Regions from separate parts of the Homo sapiens genome. Here region 1 is linked to region 2. The links come from fine-mapping of genetic effects on gene expression. Tissue or cell type: whole blood. Region 2 holds a variant in brackets; the other region holds the start of a gene. All regions are shown on one strand. Distances are from middle to middle.

Region 1 (2,687 bases), 78 kb before region 2:
CTCAGGTTTGATCTAAAGTAAACCTGTCTTCAACTGCAAGCTGTGTTTTGTGTTCCTTTCCTCTTTCTTTAACTCTTACATACTATAGTTTTCTTTTGACTTTTTTTTTTTTTTTTTTTTTTTTTTTTTTTTTTTGTCAGAGACAGGGTCTTATTCTATTGCCCAGGCTGGAGTGCAATGGTGTGATCATGGCTCACTGTAGTCTTGACCTCCTGGGCACAAATGATTCTGCCACCTCTGCCTCCTGAGTAGCTGGAGACAACGGGCACATGCCAGGACACCTGGCTAGTACTTTTTTTTATTTTTGTAAAGACGGTGGTCTCACTATGTTGCTTAGGCTGGGTCTTGAACTTCTGGCCTCAAGTGATCCTCCCACCTTGACCTCCCAAAATGCTGGGATTACAGGTGTCAGCCACTACACCCAGCTATAGTTTTCTTTTCGAAACATAGTTTTTCTCTCCAGTTCCTCATTTCTACCAAAGGCAAATCACAGTAGGACAAATCTAAGTTTTAGTCTTTTTATGCTTGGCCTGTGCTCCTTTGGGACACACACAGATAATTCAGGATAATCTCTCTATCTCAGGGCCAGCTGAGTACCAGCCTTAATTTTATCTGCAGTATTGGTTCTCCTTTGCAATGTAATCTAAATAGTCACAGGTTCCAAGGGTTAGGATGAGAACATCTTTGGCGGCCCATTATTCTGCCTGCCACATGAGGATACTAAAATATAATGAGGATAAAAATAGTACCTACTCACAGCATTGTACTGAGGAAAAGTACATTCTAGAGTTCTTACTTATCTTTGAGTAAGAATTTAAATATGAGCATTTATTATTATTAATAACAATCTATATTAGTTTGCTAGGGCTGCCTTAACAAACTACTGCAAAGTGAGTGGCTTAAAACAACAGGAGTATATTGTCTGTCAGTCCTGGAGGCCAGAAGCCTGAGATCAAGGTGTCATCAGCGTGGTTCCTTCTGAGGGCTTTGAGGGAAGAATCTATTCCATGCCTCTACCCTAGCTTCTGGCAGTTTATTGGCAATCTTTATGTTCCTTGGCTTGTAGATGCATCACTTGATCTCTGCCTTCATGTTCACATGGTGTTTTCCCTGTGTGCATGTCTGTGTCCAATTTTCCCCTTTTTATAAGGACACCAGACACATTGGATTGAGCTCATTCTACTTCAGGGTGACGTCATCTTAATTAGTTACATCTACAATAATCCTCTTCTCAAATAAGGTCACATTCTGAGGCGCTGGGGGCCAGGACTTTAACATATGAACTTTTGGGATATTTGGCTTAACCCATAACACAATCCAAAGGATAGGACTAGGACCATAGGATGGAAGGCATAGGAAGAGCATCATCATTTTCAGCTAATTTTTAAATTTTTTTTTAGAGATGTCTCTCTCTCTCTCTCCTGCCACCATGTGAAAAAGGTGCTTGCTTCCCAACTTTGCCTTCCACCTTGATTGTGAGGCAGCCAGGTGGGTGAGCGTCCCTGCAGAAACTCCAACCTGCCGGCCCACTGAGGTGGAGCCCCGGGAGGTTCACACCCTTTGCAGCAGGGAGGAGCCTGGCCCCTCCTCTTCCTGTTTGGAACCTGGGATTCAAATGGCCTGGCAGGAAGTGCTCTAGCAGAGGGACTCTGGCCTTGCAAGAGTCCCTATTTCCCCCTTTTTTTTTGCTTTTCACACAGTAAAACCCTGCTTTACTTCCCTTTGAGTCGTCTGTGAGCCTAAATTTTTGTGGCTGTGGGAAGGACAAGAACCCCATCTTTAGCTGAAATAAGGAAAAGTTCCGCAACATTTTTGGCACACACCCTGGGGGCTCCGGAAGTGGTGAGTGAAATGGTAACTCAAAACCTCTCACTGTTGCTTCTGAGCCTTTTCATCCTCAAACTTCTGAAGGTGGGGGAAACCATGTCCCCACCCCACCCCTCTTCACTCCTGGGCCTTTTCATGTCCTCCTTCCTTTTTTGGGACCGACTGGGGAACAGAAGCTCCCTTCTCCCTTATCTCCTTACCTCTCCCTTACCTCCAGGGGCTGAGACGCATGGACCAAGGGTCCGGCATAGCTGGTTGGCAGTCCCCACCCCACAGAACTGCTGGAGCGTTCTCCTTTCCCAGTCAAGGGGTTTTACTCCATCTGACAGTAATTGAGCTTTTCTCCTGGTGGAGGAACCACTTGCCTAAGAATAAGAGATTCTTCCCCAGGCACTTTAAAACTGTTCCTTTTCTTTCCCCTTCTCCACCCTGTCAACAGTTAACCTTTACAGTTTTTTCCCCCCATTTACTAGGCCAGGCCCCCAAACTATCACTGTTTAAATTTTCTGTAAACCTTTAATTATGAAAAAGGATTTGTGGGGCTAGTCTTAGGCTGTGGCCAATCTGGTGTGTTTTGCATGTCTATATGGTTTGTGCTACAAGCCTCCACCTTGCTTTAAATCCTGGGGGCATGGCCAGTAACAGCTTGGCAAGGCTTTGTTTAGCAACCCTGCCTTAGGGGATGAGCCCTCTCTGGTTCCTTATCTGCATGTTTTTTTTTTTCTTTCTTTCTTTTTTTTTTTTTTCTTTGTTGCCCAGGCTGGAGTGCAATGGCGTGTTCTTGGCTCACCACAACCTCCGCCTCCTGGGTTCAAGCGATTCTCCTGCCTCAGCCTCCCGAGTAGCTGGGATTACAGGCA
Region 2 (2,687 bases):
ATTTATTTAAATATAAATTAGTTGTTGAACACAGTAGCTGAAAAATGTGTTCAAGGAGAAATAGGGCGGGTTCCTGGTCAGTGGGTAGCAGGGTAGAATATGAGTTATGGAATCGGATAGACCTGGGTTCATGCATTCATTCATCAATTTATTCATAAATATTTATTGAGCCCCTGCCACACGCCAATCACTGTTCTAGTAGCTGGGACTTTGCAAGGAACAAAACAAAGTCCCTGCCATTCCAGAGGTTACATTCTCATGGAGGAAGTCAGACAATAAACACACAAATATAATAAATCAGATGAGATGTGTGCTATGAAAAAGAAAAGAGCAGGGTAAGGAAGATGGAAAGCAATGGGAATAAAGCATGTGGGACTGCTTCATTCAGAATGGTAGTGATGAAGGCAGTGAGTGAGAAGTGTTGGATATATCAAAGGAAGAACTAAAAGATTTGCTGATGAATATAGAGTATGGATGATTCCACATGTTCTGGATGGGGAACAACTGGAAGAATGGAGGTGTCACCTACTAACATGAGGGAAAACTATTGAGAAGTAGACTGGGGGGTTTGGGAAGATCCAGACAGATCAGTTGTGGAGGAAGTAATTCCGAGATGCCCATTAGAGAAGTCAAGTGGCCCAAATATCAATATTATTGTTGTTGTTATTTTAACTTACATATCTTTTGGCACTATTTTCTAAAGATCATTTTATCTAAAAATATTCTAATATCATATTTATTGTCAACAGGAAATATTTGTTAAAGCACTGCTTTATAAATTGCTGAAGTTAAAAAGAGATGTATGGTCACTAGTCTTGGAAACTTGAAAGACAAAATACAAAGGAATCAGGCAAATAGCAAAATAAGAAAGCATATATACAATGGCAAATGAGGAATGGTAGAATATGGAGGAAACAGTGTGTGTGGGCATAGGAGGTGAGGTGGCTGGAGCAGAGAGCTCAATGAAGAGACTGCTGGGATAGTCAGGCCAAGGACACAGGGCCCTGGCCAGGAGCCCTGGCAATGAGAATGGAAAGAAGACTGTGAAAGGCACTGAGAGGAGGAACTAGATGGGGCCCAGACTGAAGAGAAGCAGGGGAGAATCAAGGATGGCCTAAGACTTGAGCTCATGTCACTCAAGAGAACAGTGGGATCATTGATAGAAATAAGGAGACAGGCTGGGAGCGGTGGCTCACGCCTGTAATCCCAGCACTTTGGGAGGCCAAGGCAGGCAGATCACCTGAGGTCAGGAGTTCGAGATCAGCCTGGCCAACGTGGCAAAACCCCGTCTCTACTAAAAATACAAAAATTAGCC[A/G]GGCATGGTGGCGGGCACCTGTAATCCTGGCTACTTGGGAGGCTGAGGCAGGAGAATCACTTGAACATGGGAGGTGGAGGCTGCAGTGAGCCAAGATCATGCCACTGCACTCCAGCCTGGGTGACAAAGCAGGACTCCACCTCAAAAAAAAAAAAAAAAATGACAGACTGGTGAAGGAGGATATGCTTTGCTTGGGATATACTCGATTTAGAGGGACAGTGAGGCATTGATTTACAACTATCCAGCTGACACTGGCATTATTCCAGTCACCTGAGCAGGAGAGTTGCTGAGGTGGCTGTCCACATGTCCATGTGGGATAGTGCCTGAAAATCAGCTGGTCCTAAATTCAATAAACAAGCAAGATGCAGCTACAAACACACAGATTTGTAACCTCTGCTTGAATGAGAAGCCTGTGATCCCTATCATAGGACCTAAGTTTCATGCTCTCTGCATAAGTCAGCCCAGTCTGGAGAGCTGCACTCAATTTCTGGGGGCATATTTTAGGATGAATTAGAGATCATTTGAGTGACTGACCTGAACAATGATAGAGAAGACTTCAAGGGACATAATATAGTTAGCTTCAGATTTAAGGAAGACTGCCATGTAGAAGAGGAAAACAACATGATTATTTTTCTTCTTGAAGGAAGAATTAGGCTCTGTAGGCTGAATTTATAAGGAAGGAGGAGTTTAGGAACATTAAGCTGTTTTCTAACATTAGAATATGAGCTGCCTCCTAGGTTGAGAGCTCCCAGTCACTGGGGGTTGGAAGATGGGAGTGGGATTCTAGTAGAGGCTGGAGGAGAAGCAGTCCCAGGGAGGCTGGAGGAGAAGCAGTCCCAGGGAAGCTGGAGGAGGGCATCGCTGCTCTAAGTTAAAGATTGGCTTGGGTGACTTCTTAAGTCCCTCCTACTGTGAAGATTCTCTAATTGAACTGATGGAGTATTAGGCTTGGTTTATGTGGGAAAACTTTTGCTAGTGTTAATTTCAATTCTATGAAAGTGACGAGAAGTACTCCTTTTTTTTTTTGTTTTTGTTTTTTTAAAATCTATATTTCTTGAACCCAAAGGTATCTGGGCATGTCCTGTGATAATGCTGAAGCGGTACTAGGCCAGGGCAAATTGTTCTGACCCTGCTCCCGCTTCTTCTGACTTATGCCCAGATCCGAGTGTAATCCTGTAAAATGAACATCAAGATGATATTGATAAATCACATCTATAACTTCCATCTCCAAAAGATCCATTCCAAGTCAAAAGGTGTTCTTCCAGGAATAACAGCCTGTTAATGGAAGTATATTGAGAAAGGTCCACAAAGGGAAACAAGTAGTCACCACACATTAAAGGGGAAGGTGAGGAGTTGGTGTGTTTTGCTAATT

Evidence for each region. PIP is the estimated chance that this variant, and not a neighbour inherited with it, causes the effect.
Region 1: it holds the start of PTPRB-AS1, and the variant in region 2 is fine-mapped to the expression of PTPRB-AS1 in whole blood (TOPMed, PIP 0.91).

Annotation. Positions count from the first base shown.
Region 1 is chr12:70,466,486-70,469,172 of GRCh38, forward strand. PTPRB-AS1 (PTPRB antisense RNA 1) reads left to right here and starts at 1,594. Exons shown (of 9, transcript XR_001749196.2): 1 at 1,594-1,842. RefSeq lists an enhancer at 1,323-2,295.
Region 2 is chr12:70,544,679-70,547,365 of GRCh38, forward strand. The region is part of intron 21 of PTPRB (protein tyrosine phosphatase receptor type B); the gene reads right to left. All of the region lies in intron 6 of PTPRB-AS1 (PTPRB antisense RNA 1), which reads left to right. Among named protein-coding and RNA genes, the nearest start is that of PTPRB-AS1, 78 kb to the left of the region's middle. The variant A/G (reference allele first, on the strand shown) is at 1,316.